6 separate regions of the Homo sapiens genome follow, and regions 2, 3, 4, 5 and 6 are each linked to region 1. The links come from fine-mapping of genetic effects on gene expression. A gene starts in region 1. Each other region holds a variant in brackets. All regions are shown on one strand. Distances are between the middles of the regions.

Region 1 (4,089 bases):
TGGGTGGATCACCTGAGGTCAGGAGTTCGAGACCAACCTGACCAAGATGGACAAACCCTGCCTCTACTAAAAATACAAAACTAGCCGGACGTGGCAGTGCATGCCTATAATTCCAGCCACTTGGGAGGCTGAGGCAGGAGAATCGCTTGAACCCGGGAGGCAGAGGTTGTGGTGAACCGAGATCGTGCCATTGCACTCCAGCCTGGGCAACAAGAGCAAAACTCCATCTCAAAAAAAAAAAAAAAGGTGATCTGCCAAAGATCACAGAGTTGGTGGCAGAGCCAGGGTGGGAATCCTGACACCCCAACTTCCCTGCTTTTGGACACACCTATCTCATGGGTTGAACTTACTGGCAAGGAGTATTGGTTCCTGGGCTTCAAGGACTGCCCCGTTCCTGAGGCAGTGCACCAGGTGTGCTAAGCTTTCCCTCTTTTTCATGCTTTTATCATTGCTAATTGTGGGTGTGGTTGAAGATCTAGAGAAAGAAGGGGGACAGGCAAATAATCGCGGGCTTTGGAAGCCTAACTAAAGCTGAGAGAGAGACAGAGAGAGAGAGAGAAAGAGAGAGAATGAATATGAATCTGGGATACACAGAATTACTATTGACAGAGGTCCTAAAAGTATCTCTGATTATTCTCACAAAAACCTTGCAGGATAGGTATTGGCCTTATTTCCAGACTGATTGATTGAATCACTCATTCATTTAACATACATTTTCAAATAGCTGCTGAGTGGCAGACATAGTGCTAGGTGTTGAGGATATAGCAGTGAACAATTCAGAATATAGTCCCTGCCCCATGCAGCTTCCAGTCTAGTGCAAGGAAAGACATTTAAAAAATGATTTTACACACACACACACACACACAAATTGCAAAATATGGTAAGTGCCACAAAGGAATAATTTGCATTGCTAGGAATACAAGAAGTGGCTTGATTTAGATTAAATGACTAGGGAAGGCTTCTTTTGAAAAGTATCAATAATTGGTTAATTACTTAACTGAAGAATGAGGGCCTGGTGCAGTGGCTCAGGCCTATAACCCCAGCACTTTGGGAGGCCAAGGTGGGAGGATTGCTTGAGGCCAGGAGTTCAAGACCAGCCTGGGCAACATAGTGAGACCCTGTCTCTATTTAAAAAAAAAAAAAAAAGAATGAGGAAACAGGGTGAAAGGGGAATTGTTCAAGATTACTGGGAAAGTCACTATCTATCCACTCACCAACCATTTCAAGTTATTTTCATCGGGCTCTCTCACAAGGGCCTGCAGAGGAAGGAGCAACACTGAGTTGAGGAGGGGAAGGTTAATTTCATTGCTTAAGCTCTGCCAAGATTATCTAAGTGTTTGGTGATTGCTATGTGCTTTAAGAAAGGCAGCCAAGGGGCCGGTGCTGTGGCTCACGCCTGTAATCCCAGCAGTTTGGAAGGCCGGGGTGGGCAGATCACGAGGTCAGGAGATTGAGACCATCCTGGCCAACATGGTGAAACCCCGTCTCTACTAAACATACAAAAATTACCCGGGTGTGGTGGCGCAAGGCCGAGGCAGAAGAATCGCTTAAACCCAGAAGGTGAAGGTTGCAGTGAGCTGAGATCGGGCCACTGCACTCCAGCCTGGCGACAGAGGCACCATTTCAAAAAAAAAAAAAAAGAAAGGCAGCCAGGGTTATGCAGAGAGCCCTCATCTAGTTGGCAGGAGCTGCAGACCCCCACTCCAGTTGAAAGACATTGTCAATACTTAATTACTTTGGGAGAGTCCTTTCCTCTTGCTGGCCCTCAGTTTTCTGACCACAGGTGCCTTTGAGTCCTAATGGTAATAAAAGACCAATAGGTGAGAGACTGGAGTGGGAGTGCTGTTGACCACTGGCTCATGGGAATGAGTTATTTGCTTCAAACTAAGTCTGCAAATTACTGTTTGCCTTGAGATTCCGCACGTAGTATTTTTCCAAAGCAAGGCAGCACTCAGTTATCTGAGTTTCAACTTAAGGTCAAATCCCAAAGTTTTGGGGTCATTATTCTAGAAAAGCAAACACGAGGTTAGGAACTTTGAGGATTCCTGAGTGGCTGTATTCATTTCCATCTCCCGCGTAAATTAACGGACTAGGGCCCGCTTTGGCCCTCAACAAAGATGGCACCCGCCCTCGCCTCTCCCTAAGTGCCCTCACAAAAAATGGCAGCCGGCCTTTTTTTGTCTCTTATTTTTGCTTGGCTTAAGCACGGATGCTTTGCCCTTAGTTAAGATGGCACCTATCCCCGCTTCCCTGCCCGTCCTCTGGCGCCAGCCGGTCGGCTTCACTGCGTGCGCCTCCGTGACCCCGCCTCGTTTCCGTAGGAAGAAGCGCCGGGAAAGATGGCGGCGTCTGTGGTTTGAATTCCAGCGGCGCCGCCAGAGTCTGAACAAGAGCTGGGGTGGAGGGGGCGGGGACCTGGGGAGCCCGGCGGGTCGCTATCGCGGGGGGTACTAGTGGCGCCGCCGCCACAGACACCAACGCTGTCGCCACCTCTGTAGCCATGATGGACTTGGTGTTGGAAGAGGACGTCACCGTCCCTGGGACGCTCAGCGGCTGCAGGTGCGGCCGGGGCATTGGTGGTCGTGGTAACCGGGCCGGGGTTCCAGCTGGTGGGATTTCGTTCTAACGCGGCCTTGGGGTTTGCTCTTGAGGGTGTCTGGCCAGGGGCAGTGTGTGGGGTGGGTTCCTTCGGAGAGGGTCTCTGGGGGGCCCACCACCTGACACTCTGGAGGGCTGGGAGCCGCGACCTGCACCACAATTGCCAGTAGCATTGCGCCATGTACTTTGTAGAGCGTGTGAAGAACAGGTAAGGAGTTTTCTGAAAGAGTAGGACGAGGGTGGGGCCACTTGGAGTATCCCGTTAGTGGGGATTGGTGGAGAACAGGGACCTTGAGGGCACCTGATGGTTCCTTCTGGTTTGAGAGTTTGTTTTCATTATGGAGAGAGTGTAGCCGGTATGCCCAGACTTTGCTTTTTGGGTCACATAGTGGCCACCCAGGAGGCAATGGAGTGCAATGATTAAGAACCTTGGCTAGAGTTGGACAAAACTGGATTCAAATCCAGCCCTGTAAACTGACTAGCTGTGTGACCTTGGTAAAGTGATTTCACCGGCTTTCCCATCTGTAAAATGGGCTAGTAATATCCACCCAACAGAGTTGGGGTGAGGATTAAAAGAGGTGATGCCTGTCGAGCCATTTGCTTGGCAGGTGTAGTGCCTGCCACATAATCAGTGCTTAAAAAATGATCTTGTGTTGCCATTAGTGTCATTATTACTACTGTCATCAAAGGTGATATGAATCAGGGAATAATGGCCAAGAGTGGCCTCCCATGGACCTGCCCCAAGAGACTGTGGGAGTCCCCATTGCTGGTGGAGCTGGGGTCTGGTAGGAAGGCCTAACAGAGCGCAACTCTGCTCCACGGCTGGCCCCTGTGGTTGTCCTAGACTCCTGGTTGGAGAGTGAGTAGAGGGAAGAGGAGGAGAGCCCTGACGGAGAACCTGCACTGTTTATCCAGCTCTACTATGGACAAGCTGCTGCTTTTAGTCAACAGATCCTAATTGAAAGGGTGACCATGTTATTTATTGTGCTAACTGGGACACTTAAGAGTGAAAAGAGCCAGGTGCGGTGGCTCACCTGTGTAATCCTAGCCCTTGGGGAGGCCGAGGTGGGCCGATTTCTTGAGCTCAGGAGTGTGAGATCAGCCTGGGCAACATGGTGAAATCCTATCTCTACAAAAACTACAAAGATTAGCCAGGCGTGGTGGCATGCACTTGTAGTCCCAGCCGCTCGGGAGGCTGAGGCAGGAGGATTGCATGAGCCCGGAAGGTTGATGCTGCAGTGAGCTGTGTTCATGCCACTGCACTGTAGCCTGGGTGACAAAGTGAGACTCTATCTTTAAAAAAAAAAAAAAGGAAAGTGAAAATAATTAATATTTATGCCCGGGCAGCAGACATAAAGAGGGCCTATCTTGGGTAAACCTGGACAAATGGTTTTTCTGTTTATTGAGAACCTTCATGTATGAGGCACAGACTAAGATGCTTTGCAGTTCCTGTCTAATTGGGTCCTGTGATATTTCATCATGCCCTTTTCT
Region 2 (4,089 bases), 110 kb after region 1:
CTGATTTTTGGCAACAAAATTGATTACTCAGGTTTTAAAATCATGATTACTCAGGTTTTAAAAATACTTTATTATATATTTAGAAAGTGCTTCTATGTGTATTATCTCATATGATCCTCACAGCCTTTCTGTGAAGTAATAATAATGCTATCCCTGTGTTTTCTATAAGGTCATGAAAACTAAGATAGGGTAAGTGACTTGCTCAAAGTCACACAGATGTCAAGTGACAGAACCCTGGGACTCAAGCAAGTCTCCCTATCTCTGCAGAATTGCTGAAATGAGTTGCTGCCAGCAAGGTGTGGTGGGGAGAGCCAACTCTAGGATAGAGGCCTTGTTCTAGCCCTGACTCTCCCACTTTCTAGCTCTGTGTCCACAGGCAAGTGCTGCTCTGGGCCTCTGTCCATGTGTCTGTACACACAGGGTTGGCCTCAGGGACTTCTCAGAATTGAGAAGTCCTTTTTTTTTTTTTTTTTGAGATGGAGTCTTGCTCTGTTGCCCAGGCTGGAGTGCAGTGGCAGGATCTCGGCTCACTGCAACCTCCGCCTCCCGGGTTCAAGCGATTCTCCTGCCTCAGCCTCCCAAGTAGTTGGGACTACAGGCACATACCACCACGCCCGGCTAATTTTTTGCATTTTTAGTAGAGATGGTGTTTCACCATGTTAGCCAGGATGGTCTTGATCTCCTGACCTCAGGATCCACCCACCTCCGCCTCCCAAAGTGCTGGGATTACAAGTGTTGGTCACCTCTCTCTACACAGTGGGATGGGTACAGCTGAAAGGATATGATGTCTGGGATTCATTTCCAAACAGTGCAGAAGCTGAGGACGTGGGTGGGAATATCAAAAGAACAAGATTGGCCCTGGCTCTCTGATTGTTGGGGCTGGGGTATGTGTAGATGGGGGAGAGGTTCATTACAGTAGTTTTTTTTTTTTCCTTTTGTATATGTCTAAAATTTTCTATAATGAAAAGTTAAAAAAGAATCACCCCTCATTTCTCCCTCTCATATGTCCTCTGCTCTTACCATAGTGAGCTCTTTATCGTTCCCTGGGCTGTGTGTTCCTGCCTGTACCTTCACCTGTGTTTCCTACCCTTCTATTCCCAACCTTTCCCCTACTTTGTCTCCTCCCAGTCCTTTAGAATTTAGCTTGAATGTTACATTTGTCAGGCAGCCCAGCTAATCCCCAAAACAGTTGCCTCTCTGTGTTTCTGCCCTGCGTGGGGAGGTCACCTTCTGTAGCCGTCTGTGCCTGCTCTGCCTCCTCACCTGTGTTGGAGCTCCCTCAGGGCAGGGGTCCCACCTTACTGTCTCTGCTCCCCAGGGCCTGGTACAGAGTAGGCATTTGGGAAATGTTCTGTGCAGGAATGCCCCTCCCTGCCATGTTGATCTTCTAAATTATGAGATAATTTCCAGATTTTTTCATAGGAAATGAGTTTAGGGAAAATGAAAACATGCTGCTGAAATTCTGGGAGTAGGCGTCACTCTCTGAAAGTGAGTTTTTTCAAGAAACCTCAGCTGCTGGTCATTTTCACTTGGCAAGTGGTGTTGGGGGAGGTGGGCGGTGGGAGCGAGCAGTGGGGGGCACTGGGGGTTGAGTCGTGTGGAAACTCACAGAGGGAGTGGACACATTTCATTTCAATTGCGCAGCTTCTCTGGGTAGGAGCCAGGTTGATTCTGGGTACTGAGAGGCCTTGTGGGTGGATATGGTTGCTCCTGAGTCTTCTCAGCTTCATGAGGGGCTCCCAAGTTTCACAGGCTCTTTCTTAATGAATGAAAACTTGGATGGGACTGAGGCGGGTCAGGGCTAACTCGGACTAACAAAGACTAACCGGGACTAACAAGGTTTCTTAAAAGGCTTCCTGTTCATCTTCAGACTTGTAATACATTCAGTGGGAGACAGACCTAGGTCCACATCTCAGCTCTGCCACTCAGCAGCCCTGAGCTCTTGGGTAAGTAATTTCTCACCCTGAGCCTCAGTGTGTTTGTGAAATTGAGATTGGCTGGTCTGCCTACTTACCTACCTACTTAGATGTCTACCTGCTTTACAGGGTTGTGTTGAAACTAGAGAGGACACTGTGTAAAGACCTAATACTTCCTGGCATGTAGTAAGCACTCAGTAAATGGTAAGATTTCTTAAGAA[T/C]AATGACAGCATGAAAAGCTTACATATGTCTCAATATTTCATCATGCATAAACTTAGTTTACAGGAGGTTTTTGAATCCTCAGACCTTGGCATATCCAGAGGGCAGAATGTGGGCTAAGGAAGGTAGAGCTCTCTTCTGTAACTCCAGCACTGTTCACTCTGGAAATTGACAGGAAAGGTGGATGACCCTGAAGACAGATGATGTACTGTGATTAAAACTGGAAAGGGAAGTCAAGAAGGGAGGAAACTCATTGTGAGCAAGAATGTGGCTGATCCTTTCACTTTTACTATTTATTCTTCACAGCAGCACTTAGAAGTTGGTGGATGATCCCCAAATTACAGAAGTGGAAATGTGCATTCTAAGACACCCGGTGTTCCGCAGTGAAGGATTATCAGTGCTTAGGTCGTCTTGGCTCCCAACCCAGGTTCTTGCTGATACACTCCCCATCTTGAGGACTAGCACAGTTTCCCTGTAACTCAGGATTTCTCAGCCTCAGCAGTATGAGGCTTTGAGGCTGGATAATTTTTTTGTCATGAGGGCATGTCCTGTGCTTTGTAAGATGTTTAACAATCCCCGGCCTCTACCATGGGAGGGTCGGCACACCTGATCCTCCCATGGCAGTTGTAACAACCAAAAATGTCTCCAGACATGGCCAAATGTCCCCTGGCGGGTGGGGGCAAAATCATCTCCAGATGATTATCATTGCTGTAACTCATGAAAATCAGCAATCTTGGCTCATAAATATTGTCTTCTGTATGGGAGTTGTTAGAGTATGTGGAAGGAAGGAAATGATGTTTGTTGAGCATCTCATATGTGTTAGCCCCTGTCCTAACGTCTTTCCCATGTAATATCTCATTTATTCCTCAACACAATCGCAAAGCAAAGGTATTATTATTCCCATTTTGCGTGAGGAAATCAGGACTCAGTTAGTTGAACTGGCTTGCCCAGTAGTGGTGGCGTGCTATTTTGAGCTTCGATCTCTCTAACTCCTTGTTTCTGCTCCTGTCTGCCCTGCCCCAGTTCCAGGAAGAGGAAGGTTTTTGTTTTTTTCTGAGTGAAGCACCTTTTGTTCTCCCAACTCCTCACACCTTGAAAAGATTCTCAAGTTGGGAAAACATAAATGACAGACACAGGAGCAGCAGCTGTGTACTTTTCACCCTGTCAGAAAATGGAAGAGGGAGTGAAGCAGTTAGCTTTCCCCAGCCCTAATCGCAGGAGCTTCTCTAAAACAGTCTCTTTTTTTCTCCCTGGTTAAATGCCTCTGCAGCATGACTGCATCCAAGCGAGTGCTGTGCTGTGACACCTCTGTGAGGTTTTTCATCAGCCTTACAAATTGATCATTATGATTGTCTTAAAATGGAACTAGATACAAGTTGCTAGTAGGGCCCTTTCCCTTGCGTGAAGACTGCTTCACAATGAACTGTCCTCAAAGCAGCAAGCATAGAAGATTAGACATAATGGTTTATTTTCCTTCCAATGTGTGTTGATTTATGTGTGCAGTCCGATGGATGGAGCTGGAAGTCTCTGAAGGAGAAGCGGGGCTTCTTTGAGGAGTCTGGCACACATATTTGGAGTAATTGCCTCTAACCATTCGGGGGCTATTGATCCCTTTTGAAAAATCTGATGAAAGCTTATAGGCCCTCTCCCTAGAAAAATCCACAAATTCATTCATTTTTTGCAGATAATTTCATGGCATTGATGGACATTTTTAGGGAACCATAGATGCTAGATGGAGAATGATAGATCTCTTGGTATCTAAAAAAGAAGGCTTTCTGATTTGTTAATGTGTTTCAGTAGTCTTAAAGATGTTCATATACTTTGACCCAGTAATTGCATTGCTGGGAATCTTTCTTAAGAAAATAACCTGGATGTCAAACAAGGCTTTAAGCACAGAGATGGACAGTGAAGCATTATTTATGCCATTCAGATGTCAGCTGGGGTCTCCATGTTC
Region 3 (4,089 bases), 150 kb after region 1:
ATATGGCTAGCCAGTTTTGCCAACACCATTTATTAAATAGGGAATCCTTTCCCCATTGCTTGTTTTTCTCAGGTTTGTCAAAGATCAGATAGTTGTAGATATGCGGCATTATTTCTGAGGGCTCTGTTCTGTTCCCATTGATCTGTATCTCTCTTTTGGTGCCAGTACCATGCTGTTTTGGTTACTGTAGCCTTGTAGTATAGTTTGAAGTCAGGTAGTGTGATGCCTCCAGCTTTGTTCTTTTGGCTTAGGATTGACTTGGCGATGCGGGCTCTTTTTTGGTTCCATATGAACTTTAAAATCATTTTTTCCAGTTCTGTGAAGAAAGTCATTGGTAGCTTGATGGGGATGGCATTGAATCTATAAATTACCTTGAGCAGTATGGCCATTTTCACAATATTGATTCTTCCTACCCATGAGCATGGAATGTTCTTCCATTTGTTTGTATCCTCTTTTATTTCATTGAGCAGTGGTTTGTAGTTCTCCTTGAAGAGGTCCTTCACGTCCCTTGTAAGTTGAATTCCTAAGTATTTTATTCTCTTTGAAGCAGTTGTGAATGGGAGTTCACTCATGATTTGGCTCTCTGTTTGTCTGTTATTGGTGTATAAGAATGCTTGTGATTTTTGTACATCGATTTTGTATCCTGAGACTTTGCTGAAGTTGCTTATCAGCTTAAGGAAATTTTGGGCTGAGACAATGGGGTTTTCTAGATATACAATCATGTCATCTGCAAACAGGGACAATTTGACTTCCTCTTTTCCTAATTGAATACCCTTTATTTCCTTCTCCTGCCTAATTGCCCTGGCCAGAACTTCCAACACTATGTTGAATAGGAGTGGTGAGAGAGGGCATCCCTGTCTTGTGCCAGTTTTCAAAGGGAATGCTTCCAGTTTTTGCCCATTCAGTATGATATTGGCTGTGGGTTTGTCATAGATAGCTCTTATTATTTTGAGATAACGTTCGATCAATACCTAATTTATTAAGAGTTTTTAGCATGAAGGGTTGTTGAATTTTGTCAAAGGCCTTTTCTGCATCTATTGAGATAATCATGTGGTTTTTGTCTTTGGTTCTGTTTATATGCTGGATTACATTTATTGATTTGCGTATATTGAACCAGCTTTGCATCCCAGGGATGAAGCCCACTTGATCGTGGTGGATAAGCTTTTTGATGTGCTGCTGGATTCGGTTTGCCAGTATTTTATTGAGGATTTTTGCATCAATGTTCATCAAGGATTTTGGTCTAAAATTCTCTTTTTTGGCTGTGTCTCTGCCCGGCTTTGGTATCAGGATGATGCTGGCCTCATAAAATGAGTTAGGGAGGATTCCCTCTTTTTCTATTGATTGGAATAGTTTCAGAAGGAATGGTACCAGTTCCTCCTTGTACCTCTGGTAGAATTTGGCTGTGAATCCGTCTGGTCCTGGACTCTTTTTGGTTGGTAAGCTATTGATTATTGCCACAATTTCAGATCCTGTTATTGGTCTATTCAGAGATTCAGCTTCTTCCTAGTTTAGTCTGGGGATAGTGTATGTGTCGAGGAATTTATCCATTTCTTCTAGATTTTCTAGTTTATTTGCGTAGAGGTGTTTGTAGTATTCTCTGATGGTAGTTTGTATTTCTTTGGGATCGGTGGTGATATCCCCTTTATCATTCTTTATTGCATCTATTTGATTCTTCTCTCTTTTTTTCTTTATTAGTCTTGCTAGCGGTCTATCAATTTTGTTGATCCTTTCACAAAACCAGCTCCTGGATTCATTAATTTTTTGAAGGGTTTTTTTGGTCTCTATTTCCTTCAGTTCTTCTCTGATTTTAGTTATTTCTTGCCTTCTGCTAGCTTTTAAATGTGTTTGCTCTTGCTTTCCTAGTTCTTTTAATTGTGATGTTAGGGTGTCAATTTTGGATCTTTCCTGCTTTCTCTTGTGGGCATTTAGTGCTATAAATTTCCCTCTACACACTCCTTTGAATGTGTCCCAGAGATTCTGGTATGTTGTGTCTTTGTTCTC[G/A]TTGGCTTCAAAGAACATTTTTATTTCTGCCTTCATTTCGTTATGTACCCAGTAGTCATTCAGGAGCAGGTTGTTCAGTTTCCATGTAGTTGAGCGGTTTTGAGTGAGTTTCTTAATCCTGAGTTCTAGTTTGATTTCACTGTGGTCTGAGAGACAGTTTGTTATAATTTCTGTTCTTTTACATTTGCTGAGGAGAGCTTTACTTCCAACTATGTGGTCAATTTTGGAATAGGTATGGTGTGGTGCTGAAAAAAATGTATATTCTGTTGATCAAACATTTCTGTGGGCCAGGCCTTGCATTTCCCCTCTTCCATGATTCCGTTCAAACCATTATTTTTTTCTGTAAGACTTCTACTCCCTTTCCACTTAGAGAAATTAGAGAAATTCTGCCTATCCTCCAGGAATCTTTCTTTGTTCACCTGAAGTGGAAGCAAAATTTATTCTTTCCACCCCCTCCCACCCCCGGTTTGTTTATAGCTTGCACTTGATATTCACATCTGAGTTTGTGATAGAGGCTGTTGCAAGGGTGTTGGGTTAGAAAGAACAAGACCTTTGGAGTCAGACAGACTGGAGTTCAGATCCCAGCTTTGTGGGTCATTTATCCTTTGAAGGGCCAGATTTCCTCTATGGGGGAGAGCAGTACCTGTCTTATAGAGATGTTTGTGAGAATGAAATGACATTATTTAAGCTTGTCCAATCCGTGGCCCATGGGCTGCATGCAGCCCAGGACGGCATTGAATGTGGCACAATGCAAATTTGTAAACTTTCTTAAAACATTATGGATTTTTTTGTTTTTTAAGCTCATTGGCTATTGTTAGTGTATTTTATGTGTGGTCCAAGACACAGAGTGGCCCAGGGAAGCCAAAAGATTGGACACCCCTGATTTCTCTCATTTTTAAATTTCTGGCCAAACAAAAAACCCAATAGACACTCCTGATTTGAAGGGTGTCCTGCCTTGACAAATAGGGGGAGCTCAGGAAGATACATCAACCAAAATTAAAATTGTAAATCCTACAGCTAGGTGAGGGGACCCTTCCCTCAGCTAAGGGAACCCAACAAAACCTTAAAAACTAGTTCAGACCATGATGGGAAAGTGGGGGGCGGTCAGACATGCCTCATTATACTCTCCTCCCTTTGGAGCTGGCACACAGCTGACCAGTATTAACACTAAAATAGAGATCCTTAGGCTGACTGAACAGACTCTGTAGCAATAAGAAACCAAATTCTAACCTGACTCCATTATAGCATCACATGACAGATTGCAGGGCTCTGAAAGAAATCAAAGTATTGTACCCCAAAATATATTTCTTTGACATGTTTTGAAATGGCCCTGAAATGCTGTCTCTTGTAGGGAACACTTACATTCTATAGAGAATCCCCTTCCCTTTCTCCTTTTCTGATCCTGAAGAGATTGGCTGAGAGTCCAGCACCTTTTAACGATCTGAATAGGAAATATTTGCCTCTGAGGATGGCCACCTCTGGGACTTCATCCACATAAGAAAAGCCTTGGTCTCTGTAACCCCTTAGCTTAACTCAGACACTCCTTTCTATTAATTCCAGGTCTTTAGATAATAACTCTTTCAACCAAGTGCCAATCAGAAAAATGTTTGAATCCACCAATGACCTGGAAGCCCGCCACCCACTTTGAGTTGTCCTGCCTTTCCGGACCAGACCAGTGTATACCTCACATATGTTGATTGATATCTTTTGTCTCCCTAAAACATATAAAACCAAGCTGTAACCCAGTCACTTTGGGCACATGTTCTCAGGACCTCCTGGGGCTGTGTCACCTGTCATGATCCATAACCTTGGCAAAATAAACTCCAAAACTGGTTGAGATCTGTCTCATATACTTTTTGGCTTACAGTGGCAACAATAATAATGGGGCATGCATGTCATGGTTAACAGAGTGATGCAGGCTTTCAGAGAAAATGGAGGGTTTTTCCTCCTAAGAATCCCTGGAACTGCCCTCCCCAGAGTCCCTTAAGTGTCTTCCCATCTTTATAAAGCAGTTCTTCCCTCCATCAAAGATATGGCTCCATTGCCACCTCCCCGAAATGTTCCTTGATGGTCCAGGCCAGATTCTGT
Region 4 (4,089 bases), 120 kb after region 1:
AACTATGAGCACACATGTCCCCGCCCTGTCTAGGATGTAATCCAGAGAAGCAGAGGGGCAATTGGGGCAGAGTGTGGTGAGGGCTGTGATGGAGTGAATGCAGAGTCTCAAGGGAGTTGTAGACAGGTGCCCAGCCCTCACTTTGGGGATTAAGGGAAGTTCTCCCTGGAGGAGGAAGAGGAGCTGCCAAGCAGATGAAGAAAGAATAGCTCAAGAGGCAGGGGGAGAGGCAGTAGAGTGCAGAGTAACAGCGTGGGGTTTCAAGGAGGGAGTGTTTCATAGTGTCGAACACTCTGAGAAGCAAGAAAGAAAAAAGTACTGAGAACTTCCTATGAGTCCCATGACCTGAGCAGTTTCATTAGAGTGAGGGGGACAGAAGCCAGCTTGCAGGGGATAGAGAAGTGATGAGAAGTGATGAAATGAGGATAGAGCCAGTTGACACTTGGAGGTTGCTTCTTTAGTGGTGGTAGGGCTGGAAGCCGAGCCAGGTATAGTGACTCAGTTCTTTCTGACATCTTAGTTCTGGATCTTTGAAAATGAGTAAATAGCATGCAGCATGAAGTATGTTTCTCTATGTCCATAACATTTAATTTCTTGACCATTCCTGGAAACCGAGAGTTTACTTTTAATCTTGACCACGTCAGCAGAGGTAAAGAGAAATGAAAGTTAATTTTTATTTAACTGTGTCAAGCATTGGCATGGTTGTGGTTCTGGAAATGCAGAATAACTTTGACGCTTTTCATATTTCAACTTGGAATGATGTGTTAACAATACTTTCTTTGCTCAGCTAAGCTTAGAGGAAACCCTTCTCAGATCCGCAGGAGTCTGGGAGGAGCTTCTCCGTGCCTCTTTCCTAACCCCATGTGGATTTCATCTCTCATTAATACAACAAGGTCTTTGGGGACCTTTCCTGGGCAGTAAAGCCACATTGCAGAAGGTGAGAATAGACCCCTTGCAGAAGCTTGGAGAGAGGCAGAGAATACTGAGTGGCCAGAGCTGTTGGGGAATCAGGGGGAGACTTTCGTTGTTGTTGTTGTTTTGTTTTTTGAGATGGAGTCTCCCTCTGTCACCCAGGCTGGAGTGCAGTGGCGCGATCTCAGCTCACTGCAAGCTCCGCCTCCCGGGTTCATGCCAGTCTCCTGTCTCAGCTTCCCAAGTAGCTGGGACTACAGGCGCCCGCCACCATGCCCAGCTAATTTTTTTAATTTTTAGTAGAGACAAGATTTCACCATGTTAGCCAGGATGGTCTCGATCTCCTGACTTCGTGATCTGCCCACCTCAGCCTCCCAAAGTGCTGGGATTACAGGTGTGAGCCACCGTGCCTGGCCCTGTTTTGTTTTGTTTTTTAAAAGATGGGAAAGACTTTCTCCTAATATTTTATTATGAAAAAATTCAGACACAGTGAATACCCATATACTCACCACCTAGGTTCTATTCACATTTCCCACCTGCCCATCATCACTCTGTCTCATCTTTCTAATAAATTTTAATTGAAACTGCAAACATCAGTATACTTCCCCCAAGTACTTCAATGTGCATATCTTCAATAAATGCTTATAGTCAAATGAACTATAGAAATTGTAAGCCTGCGTTCACTAAGTTTTACAAGTGTATGTGCCTGTGTAAGGCAAACCCCTATCAAGAGCCTGCATGTCCTCTGTTGTCCATACCCAGTCC[C/T]ACCCCAGCTGCTCTTCTGATTTTGTCCCACTATGGGTTAATTTTGCCTAGACCTTCATATAAATGGAGTCATACAGTATATTCTCTTTTGTATATATTCTTTTACTCAGCATTATGTTTTTGAGATTCATCCATGTGGTTAGTGCATCAAGTTTGTTCCTTTTTATTGCCAGGTAGTATTCCATTGCATGAGTGTATTACAGTTGTTTATTCATTCTGCTATTAATGGACACTTGGGTAAAAGGTGATATGGGCATTCATGTACAATTCTTTGTTGGGACACACTTTTTTTTTTTTTTTAATTTGATGAGTACCTATGAGTAGAATTCCTGAGTCATAGGATTACTCGTTTTATAAGAAATTGCCAATACTTTTTCCAAACATTTTATATTCCCACCAACAAGTTTGATAGTTCCAGTTAGTCTTTATCACTCGAGAATGTTATGGTAATGAGGGAAGAAGCCAAAAGACAAAGAGGGTTCCTTACCCATATTTATAGACTTTTATGCTTCAGTAGGTATATTTATGCACGTCTAGTCTGTTTCATGCTGGATAATATAGTAGGATGTGGTTTTTGATCATCACTTCTGTTTGATCCTGATTGCAGATTTGGATATGGTCAGATTGAACATGTTCTGACCCTGGGAAGTTTCTATAAAAACTGAACTCAGTTGCCTTTGTTTTGTTTTTCTTCCACAACAAGGTTGTTCCTCTGAAAGGAAAAACAGAGAGTTGGGCTGGAGAGCTATGGGGATAATTGACTAAATGTAGGGATTCAGAAATAAAACTTGAGCTAGAACCGTAGGTATCTCACACGTACAACATGCCCAACAAATGACCCAATACTCTGTGGTTTCAGCACCTTCGGTGCAGACTCTTTTGTTTTGTTTTTGCTTTCGAGACAGGGTCTTACTCTGTTGCCCAGGCTGGAGTGCAGTGGTGTGATCACGGCTCACTGCAGCCTCGACCTCCCTGGGCTCAGGTGATCCTCCTGCCTCAGTCTCCCGAGTAGCTGGGACTACAGGCATGTACCACCACACCCGGCGAATTTTTGTGTTTTTTGTAGAGACAGGTGTCTCACTCTGTTGCCCTGACTGGTCTTGAACTGCTGGACTCAAGCAATCTGCCTGCCTAGGGCTCCCAAAGTGCTAGGATTACAGGTGTGAGCCACCGCACCTGGCCAGACTCTTTTATTGGTCAGATAAGGTTTGGTATAATTTTGACATAGCTTTGATTGATTCCTTATCCGGGAGTGGCTGGCCACCTTTTCTCTCATTTTTAATTTGGTTAATTCAGGTGCCCCATGACTAGAATTTTTGCTTTTGCGGAGAGCTGAGAACTGGCTTTCTTGAGAACTTTGTACCGTCCATTTTGTAGAACTCAGAAGCTTTGGGATTTACACTTCTTTGAAGCATTAGGGATTTATGCAGTCTTTATAAATAACTGTCCTTCATTTCCAAAAGCATAAAGTTATCGTCACGCAAGCGTGATACTCTTCTCATTAGAGATGAGGAATTTCTGTCAGCAAAATGACAGTGTTGCCAGGACTGTCCATCTCAGATGTGTGACAGTCCAACAAGAAGAGGTTTATGCCTTGCGCTAAATAGAAGTGATGCATAAATTGGGCACACCATAAATTTCATTTATTACTTTCTTGCTGTTTGATATTTTCAATTCCATCAATAGCTATTTTCCAAAATCTTGTTACTTTTATATAATCTGAAAGTGAATTTAGTAAAGGCAGGAGTGGCAGTGGCATAATAGACGGCATTTTTAATTTACGGCAGCTCAGGAAAGGCCATGCAAGGGCAAGGGGCAATGCCTTTAGTTATTTTCTTGGGGAATTTGTCCTTAAATTATGCTTGATCCAGGCAGCTGTGTCTGATTCGCCACAACTAGCAACTCTAACCTTGGTTAATTTTTATTTCATGGCTTTGGCATTTGTTTCTTCCTCTTTTTTGTTTGCTTTTTGTTTTGCATTAAAAAAAAAAAGACATCACTGACTTATTCATACATATTCATGCTGCACACTTTTTTGGGTTGCATTTTCACACCATTCCATGCTCCATGTAGCTTCTGGCTAGCAAGGAGGACGAGGACACGATCAAAATTGGGGAGGATGACGAGATTAATTTCCTGAGTGACCAGCATTTGCAGCAGAGTAATGAGGTAGGAACCTTTCAGTTAACTCCTTATTTCATCTACTCCACTCTATGTCCAAATCAGTCTTCGAGTCTGGAATGAGTCCAGTGGGTTTTCTGTTCATTCTGCCTATATCCTGTACCTTTCATGTGCCAGTGGAAAGCAAAGACTAGGTCTTTTCCTTCTTATAAGTTATAAACTGGGTGACAGAGCCAGTCATGAAACATGAAAACGAGCATAAACTTGCAAATAAAAATGGGCTTGTTATAG
Region 5 (4,089 bases), 190 kb after region 1:
ACTCTCACCAAGCCCTGTTGAGAACAGATTCCCTATCAGGCTCAGAACTCTGATCAAGAGGGGCATTCTTGCCACTGCTGGAGTTTGTGTTGGACAAGAAAAAGCCTGAAGGAAGACCCACCTTTACAGTTGCTCCTGAAAGCCAGGGCTCGCCTGCCCCTCCTGGGAATTCTCATGCACGGGGGATCTTTCTAGTACAGTGCTCCGGGCGTCAGTGTCAGCAGGGACCTCTGAAACCATCCCACCCAACCAGCTCTTGTCCAGGCAGAATGTGACTTGCCCAGAGGAATCAGGCTGGGCTATTCCACCAGCTAAAGGGCAGGCAAAGGAGAAGCAGCATGCCCACGGTTTTTTCTTCCAGGCCATTTGGAGCTGGCTCTAAGAGCTGCTGGGTAAAAACCTGGCTTCGTAGAACTTGGACCCTCATATGTGGGTCTGCCTGATCGGGGCACAGTCCCTTCCCACAGCTGCTTCCCAGAGGGCCTAGGAAACTAAAGAGTGCTGGGCAGGCCCAGGCCTCTACCCTCCCTGCGCCATTGCCCTCCCTGGCCCACAGAAGTGAGCCTGAGGGATACCTGGACAGCCAGGTGGCCGTGCACAGCTGTAGGGTGTTCTCTGAACCGGCATAGCATGCTGTAGCCTCTGCATCACTGTCAGGTGGTGGCTTAGCGGGGCCTCAAAGAGGTGTTGTTGATGCGTTATTTGGCCCTGGGGTTTGTGATGGGTCAGGTGGGCCCTTTGTACCTCCCTCTGGTCTGGATGCTTCAGACCTCGTGTTGTCTACATGTCCGAGCCCTTTGGGGTGGGGTTCATCCTCCCTGCACTTGGCTTTCACACAGCTCTCCTGGATATCCATGGCCCTAATCATTGCATTCTTTGCTCTCTCCTCAGTGGTCGTAACCCACAAAATCCTTCGGAAGGCCAGAGGAAACCTGGAGGTATGCCCTTTGAGTCTTTTCACTGCAGGCCAGTGGAAGGTCAGGAGGAGTGCAGGGCCAGAAAGGACCTCTTGAAAAATGAAGGTGCAGGTGGAACCAGGGGACATGTCCTCCTCAGAGAGTTGTTTCTGCCAGCAGTGCATGAAAAGTTGTGTTTTATCATGCCCTGTCGCCAGTAGGGGTTCTAAGTTTTAAATTTGTATGCTATTTTTACCAGTAAGAAATACAGCAAACAATGCTTGACACATAGTAGGCATTTGATGAATATTTCTTGAATGAATGAATACAGTATGATCTCATCGTTGTTTATTAGGTAAATATTTACTGACCAAACTATGTTTTTGAAAGCACTTTGAGAATAACAGTCTCGCTTTCACCTCTGTCGGGGTCTTACTTCAGAAACCTCCTTTGGACTTAAAATTCTCCTTTTTTTTCTTCCTTTTCCTAGCTTAGGCCTGGGGGAGCCCATCCAGGAACATGCAGTCCCAGCAGACCAGGCTCCTGAGAAGAACTTTCAGCCAATAAAGCTTGTGCTTCCCCCACCGAGCTCACGCTGTCTCTTTGTTCCAAGTGTGGTTCCTATTTATTGAGGAAGAAAGAGCTGTCTGGCCAAAGGAAATCTATTTTTTCCCTTCATGTTTTCTCTCTGAAAGTTGGCTTGAGAGTTGTTGTCAGAAAGGTGCAGGTGCTCCACAAACGGGTGGTAAAAAGGCCTCGAGCTCTTGGATGTTGTATTTCAGATCAGGGGCAGGCACCGGAGTTGAGGCTGTGCGCCTTGGTGGGCTTCACGTCTTCCCCTGGATTTGCTTAGTACTCAGCCAGTGCCACAGTTTGAAGATTCTCATTAAATGATTCATTTCATTTCACCTTGACGATTCTGTTGTTTTGTGTGG[C/A]GCCTCAAAGCCCAGGTCCCAAAATCCCAAGTGGGACAGGCCAGGGTTCCACGAGTCGCATGGCTCACTGCTGAGCTCGTTCAAGTGTCCAGAGAAGAGCACCTCCGTGCAGCGTGGCCATGGGCACTGGTGTGTGCTCAGCATCTCACAGTCTGCTGGACAGCAGCCCTTGCAGTGGTGCCATTCCCGATTTAGCAAAGAGCAGAGTGAGGCCCAGAGCTGGAATGTGGCATTTGCATTGTTCCCGTGATGACAGGGGTGTGTCATCAGCCATCCACATCGCTGCCTCTGACCAAGATGCCCCCAGCCAAAACACTTTAGCGGCTTCCCACTACCCTCTGATCCAAGCCCGAGCCCCTAACAAGGTTTACAAGCCTTGCTGGCACCTCCAGCTCCTTGCCCATCTCGCCTCCTCCCGCTCCACTCTGTGTTCCAGGCAAACGGAACAGTGTTCTCCCCAGTCTAACCCAGGCTGCGCCCTCTTGGACATGCTCCTCCCACCCTTTCTTTTTCTAGTTAGCTTTGAATGGTCCTTTAGAAATATTTTTTCTGCCCTTGGGGAAGCCTCTCCTGACCCGATACTAGGTGAAATGCCCCACCTCTGCTCCCGCAGCCCCCACACCACTGTGCAAATCCTCTGAGCCCCTGGAGAGCAGAGGCTTGTGTTGACCATGGAATTGCCAGCACCTGACCTGGCGCCCAGCTCCCCAGACACGATGGTGAGGGGAGGAGACGGGATTGCACTTGCTGGAAGCGTAGGGTGCAGCAGCCCCGGCTGGGAGTCCGGGGAGTGGCCTCATGCCACTTTGCCTGTCTCCCCATCCATTAAGAGAGGGGCGGAGGAAGTGGGCAGTACAGACCCTTTCTGCTTCGGTTCCTGCCATCTGTGCTCTTCCTGAGAAATATTTGCACAGGTGTACCTCGGTAGAATACGTACCAGTGTGTGAAAACTCAGATTGAGCCATAATGTCACTGGAGTGCCTTTCGCAAGCAGTCACAACAGTTGACTTCCTAAATGGAAGCTGGGTCGGTGTGGCGCTGTGGAGCAGGAGGCCTGGTTCCCGTCCCGAGTCTTGTGCTTCTGTAAATGAGAGTTACTCTTGTCCAGTACTGTTACAGAGTTCGGAGCCTCAGATTTTGAAAGCAGCTGAACAACAAGGCCCTTTCCACAAATCGGTGACTCTTCTTCACTGTCTCAGTGGCTGGTCTTAAGCAAGTTTTAAAGTACTGTTTTAAGTTCTATGGCTGTGTTGTGCCAAACCCCTATTAACCTCAGTAGGGGAGGCACCAGGTTCAAGGGGCCTGAGAAGAGACCCACAGAGCCAGCAAACAGGATGTGGGCTTTATTAGGGGCTTACATACAGGGGAACAGTCCAGAGGCGGCAGGCTGGACAGGAGAACTGCTTTTCGTACAGAAACAGATGGTTCAGTGGCAGCGGCTGAACAACACAGCCCACGGCCCAGGTGGGGCAGGAAAACCATCACCACTTATAAACAGCATGCAGTTTATATAGCATTTTCACTTAACCTTCCCCCAAGGACCTCTACCTGGGAACCTTTTTTTAACCCAAAACTCAGGGCCTCAGTTCCCTGTACAGCCCATGTCCCATGAGACGGGCTTGGGGGCTCAGATACTCCTCACAAACAAGGAACAAATCTCCGGGTTGGCCACTCCTAGATTCTCTAGCTCAGAACAACATTAAGACGCGTCTGCCATACAGGGTCGTTCTAAGGTTGTGCTTAAGCTATTGCTGTCAGGGTGTTTACCCTCCAGGCAGGTGTGCGCAAATGTAAGCATGTGTGGTTGCGGGGGCAGTGGGGAGGAGGGGAGGAGGTTGTACAGTGTAGTAGATGCAGCTCAGGCAAGGCCTGGAAGTCAGACCTGGGCTCAGATGTCCCCACAGGGGAAGAGTCCTACCTTGCCTGGCACATGGTCAGTGCACAGCCCATGGGAGCTGAACTTGGTCATTGGCAAGGGCTTGAGGTGCAGGGATTGGAGGAGAGATCCACATTGGATTCTGGTACATCCCAGGCCCGTCTGGTTGGTGAACCCAGGCACGCCTGGAGCAGGAGCTGCAGAGGAGGGGCTCCAGGAGCCCAGCTGGCCATTTGCTTCAGGTCACCCACAGCTTTTCAGGAACACAATAATCTAAAACGAAGTGCATTTTTATCCGCCAGTTTAGAGTCACGTAAAATACTTTCAACCTTGGGCTAGTGAAGGCCCTCCCTCTTCTGGGAGGTGGAGGAGCAGCCTGGTT
Region 6 (4,089 bases), 130 kb after region 1:
GGTTCAAGCCGTCCTCCCACCTCAGCCTCCCGAGTAGCTGGGACTACAGTCACATGCCATCATCCCTGGCTAATTTTTTGTATTTTTTTGTAGAGATAGGGTTTCACCATGTTGCCCAGTCTGGTCTCGAATTTGTGAGCTCAAACTATCTGCCTGCCCTGGCCTCCCAAAGTGCTAGGATTATAGGCATGAACCATGATGCCTGGCCTGGAGTCACCTTTCTGAAGCACGTGTGTGCCTGGCCCAGTCCATCGCAGGGCCTTTCAGTGGCCTTCGTTTTTTTTTTTTTTTTTTTTAACGTGTTGTACAGGACTCTTCGTTTCTTCCCTGCTCATCTTTCCAGCCTCACCCCTTCTTGGCTACTTGACTCTGTTCACGTTGTTTTCCATGCTTAGACTGTTCCATTTCCTCTCCTCGAGGCTTGCCTCTCACTGATGTTAGAAGCCCTCCGCTGTTGTTCTCCCTGCCACCCCCAGTCTGGGGCACTCTGGGATGGTTGCCCTGTAACCCTCATAGTTTGTTTACGTATGTTTCTCTAAAACCAGTCCATGTCCTCCTGGGACAGTTTTGTATCCCCAGTGCCCACTGCAGTGCCCAGCACAAGAAACACACAAGGGGCTCTTCTTGAGTTACTCCACCCGAGCACCATTCCAGGTGTTTTACATGCTGGCTTAGTTTTGCTTCCCTGGAAAGCAGAGCCTGAGATATGGATTAGAGTGTAAGGGATTTATTTGGGATTTGACATCAGGGAGCAGGAATGAGGGCTCAGGGAGAGTAAGACAGGAATGAAAGCAAAGTCAATAAGGGTGCAATAATGATCTGGTTACTGCTGGGGACCCTCTGAGGGACTGTATATACTGTGCCTGTGTGGTCCGTCTGAAGGATGGGAGACTGGGACATTTACCCAACAGCTGTCTTCTCTCACTGGTTGAGAGTTTCCCCAGAAATGGAAACTGTTTCACACTTCCACACTGCTTTACTGGCTTGCTCACAGAGCTTTGGAAAAAGCCCCAAGGCAGCAGAGACGTAGAGGGTGTTTGAGGTGGGACTATGTCTATGGGAACTGTCCACACAGCCGCAGCTGAAGTCAGAGGTGGGCCAAGGGTATGTGGCAAGGACATGAAAAGCATCTGCTGCCTATACACTATCTTGTTTAATCCTCATAGCTGTCTTGTGGAGGAATACTTATCTTCTTTTCAGAGAATTGTAGAGTTAGAATATGAAGGGATTTGTATCCATCTTCAGAGCCAATGCGCTTTCTACTCTGCCTGTGTACAAATATCCCTTCATTAACACCTCTTTATTAAGCACCCATTGTGTACCAAGATGGATTAGGTCATCGATGGACCAGCCAGGTTGGCCAGATTCATCTAAAGCCATACTTGCCCCTGGATGTAGAAATGGGGCCAGGGCCAGGAGGTTGGCTGGCGGGGTAGAGTCAGGGAGGACCCTGTAATTGTCATGGTCACCTTATAATCCCGTTTGTTTCTACCTGGGCCCAGCCTGCATTCACATATTTATGTGGCCCACTCACTTGCTGTGTACCTTGTGTTAAATTAATTCTATTCTTCTTATCCATGAAATGACATGGTAGTACCTGCTTTGTTTGGGTGCCGTGAGGTTACACAGGATAAAATACTGGATGTGGGCCCTGGCACGTTGTGGGTACACACTGTATTTAGTTTTGATGGAATCTGGGCAACAGTAGGTGGGGATAACTTGGGATACTGGCTAGGGGACAAGGCCTAGCAGAAAGCTTGGTTCTCCCACTTCCTTCCCTTTTGGAAAAACAGGCCAGACCTTCTGAAAGTGGTACGGGAACTGCTTCTGGGACAACTATTCTTGACAGAGCAGGAAGTTTCTGGAGAACACCTTGATGGTAAAACTGAGAAGACACCTAAGCAAAAAGGTGAACTTGTACATTTTGTCCAAACCAACTCATTTTCCAAGCCACATGATGAACTGAAGTTGTCTTGTGAGGCCCAGCTAGTAAAGGCAGGCGAAGTGCCCAAGGTAGGACTGAAAGATGCCTCAGTGCAGACTGTGGCCACGGAGGGCGACCTGCTGAGATTCAAGCATGAAGCAACAAGAGAGGCTTGGGAAGAGAAACCGATCAACACTGCACTCAGCGCAGAGCATCGGCCAGAGAACCTGCACGGGGTGCCTGGGTGGCAGGCTGCCCTCCTTTCCCTCCCTGGTATTACCAACAGAGTAAGTTTTTCCATGTAATAATTATGTACTTACT[T/C]TATCCAAACAAAAAACTTTAAAAATCACCTTTAATCTCACCACTTTTTTCCCATTTATATGACAAGAATGTCCAGTGTCTCCCTCTGCTTGCACTTACCCTGGCCTCCACCCAGAGCTGCATGTCCTCACTGACCTTCCCCTGCCTCTCCTTCCCCTCACTCCCTCTGTCTCTCTTCCTCCATCTCAGCCCTATCTAATTTATCTATATATTGTGACATTTATGTGTTTTCCTTAGAAAAAACACACGTGAGGTCTTGTTTATACATCTGTCTATCTGTCTGTAGCTGTCTCTTTCATGTTATGAGGAACATCTTTCCTTGTAATGGCTACATAAGGTTGCATTGTGGAGATGTCCCAAAATTTATACAGTTTTCATTGTATTGATGAACATTTGCTTTTGCAGGTTGCAGTCAAATTGTCATAACCTGACTTTAGGGGTAGGGATGAGAACCTAGGTTTTATCTTGTGCAGACTTTGTGTAGGAGAGGTATTATTCTGAGGGCTTCATCTATATTCTTTTATCCTGACAACACTCATCAAAGATCTGGAAGCCACACCCCATGTTCCCGTTGTTAACCGGTGGTTAAGGGGCTGAGCTGGGACTCCCACTGTACCTGACTGCACAGCCACACCCTTTCCCTGGATCAGGCTACCTTCCAACCCGGGTTTGTTGAGTGAATGTTTGCATGTTGATTTTCCTTCAGCTTAGATACTGTCTCTAAGCTCTGCACATCCTATCAAGTATGCCAGATTGTTAAAACCAGATTCTTTTGGCAATGTTTCATTGGACCCTTATGAAAATCCTCTTGAGGTCACGGCTTGACCCCCCCACGGCCAAGAATCCCTATAGAAGGGAGATGTGTTCTGGGAGAGAAGGAAATAGGTCGTGTTTCTAATAGTGGTTCAGTGAAGGCTGTTGATATTCTTGTTTCTGATGGGTGTTTTGTATTTGAGAAATCAACTGTACACACTGCTTTATAGCATCAGAATGGAGAATTAAGTTTATTTTCTGACCACTAAATTACTGCTTTTGCGCATACAAAAGAGAGTTAGATATATCATTAGCAAAATTGCTTTTGATTGTTTTAAATTATGCACCAAAACTGTAATTTCTAGAAAAGAGTTTTCTAAAGATATCAGTAGAGACCAGAGAGAGAGAGAGAGAGAGAGAGAGAGAGAGACTGCCATTATATTAACGGTACTAGAAATGCAAATTTGTGCAATTTGGCTATAATAGAAATGCTCTCATCTGCCCCAGCTCCTTCAATTTGTACCTGTATATCAGGAAAACTAGGTGTCTTTTGTTTGTTTGTTTTTTTTGTTTGAATTTTTCATTGTGTGAGAGATGTTATTCTGTGTTCAGGAAAACTGGAGAATTGAATGGACTTAATTTCCCCAAATATATTAAAATATGTATTTTTTTAGTTTGAAATTATTCCTCTTGCTATGTCTTCAAAAGGAAGGAAACCGTATTTGTTTATTATTATTTTTAGTATCTATTAGGGATTGTGCTAGATACTCTCTGTTTGTCTGTATATATATTATATATATAATATATAATATATATAATCTCATTTAATATTCTCAACAAGAGTATGAATTTGGTAGGTATTACCTACATTTTACTTATGAAGAAATATAGGCTCTTAAAAGGCTCAGAAAACTGTCCAGAGTGATTTAGCTGGTAAGTGGAGTGACAGGGATATAAACTAAAGTCTGGTTTTAAATGCAGACAGGGATATTATAAACCTGCCTTTCTCTGGGAGAGAAGAGCCCTCCAATCACCACCATGGCCTCCAGTCTATGCAAAGTAGAAGGAAATTTAATGATATTTTTTGTGGT

The links. PIP is the estimated chance that this variant, and not a neighbour inherited with it, causes the effect.
Region 2: its variant is fine-mapped to the expression of CDK5RAP2 in whole blood (TOPMed, PIP above 0.99).
Region 3: its variant is fine-mapped to the expression of CDK5RAP2 in tibial artery (GTEx, PIP 0.95).
Region 4: its variant is fine-mapped to the expression of CDK5RAP2 in whole blood (TOPMed, PIP 0.94).
Region 5: its variant is fine-mapped to the expression of CDK5RAP2 in testis (GTEx, PIP above 0.99). The same link has a PIP of 0.9 or more in B cells, CD4 T cells, CD8 T cells, NK cells, ileum and monocytes.
Region 6: its variant is fine-mapped to the expression of CDK5RAP2 in whole blood (INTERVAL, PIP above 0.99).

The regions. Positions count from the first base shown.
Region 1 is chr9:120,578,390-120,582,478 of GRCh38, reverse strand. CDK5RAP2 (CDK5 regulatory subunit associated protein 2) reads left to right here and starts at 2,312. Exons shown (of 38, transcript NM_018249.6): 1 at 2,312-2,559. The coding sequence starts at 2,501. RefSeq lists enhancers at 2,095-2,224, 2,078-2,640.
Region 2 is chr9:120,473,063-120,477,151 of GRCh38, reverse strand. The region is part of intron 15 of CDK5RAP2 (CDK5 regulatory subunit associated protein 2); the gene reads left to right. Among named protein-coding and RNA genes, the nearest start is that of CDK5RAP2, 110 kb to the left of the region's middle. The variant T/C (reference allele first, on the strand shown) is at 2,138.
Region 3 is chr9:120,425,971-120,430,059 of GRCh38, reverse strand. The region is part of intron 25 of CDK5RAP2 (CDK5 regulatory subunit associated protein 2); the gene reads left to right. Among named protein-coding and RNA genes, the nearest start is that of CDK5RAP2, 150 kb to the left of the region's middle. The variant G/A (reference allele first, on the strand shown) is at 2,002.
Region 4 is chr9:120,460,329-120,464,417 of GRCh38, reverse strand. CDK5RAP2 (CDK5 regulatory subunit associated protein 2) reads left to right here. Exons shown (of 38, transcript NM_018249.6): 19 at 3,751-3,846. Among named protein-coding and RNA genes, the nearest start is that of CDK5RAP2, 120 kb to the left of the region's middle. The variant C/T (reference allele first, on the strand shown) is at 1,678.
Region 5 is chr9:120,386,590-120,390,678 of GRCh38, reverse strand. It overlaps CDK5RAP2 (CDK5 regulatory subunit associated protein 2), which reads left to right. Exons shown (of 38, transcript NM_018249.6): 37 at 892-938; 38 at 1,387-1,804. The coding sequence ends at 1,443. Among named protein-coding and RNA genes, the nearest start is that of MIR147A, 140 kb to the right of the region's middle. RefSeq lists an enhancer at 74-574. The variant C/A (reference allele first, on the strand shown) is at 1,832.
Region 6 is chr9:120,451,578-120,455,666 of GRCh38, reverse strand. CDK5RAP2 (CDK5 regulatory subunit associated protein 2) reads left to right here. Exons shown (of 38, transcript NM_018249.6): 21 at 1,794-2,211. Among named protein-coding and RNA genes, the nearest start is that of CDK5RAP2, 130 kb to the left of the region's middle. The variant T/C (reference allele first, on the strand shown) is at 2,246.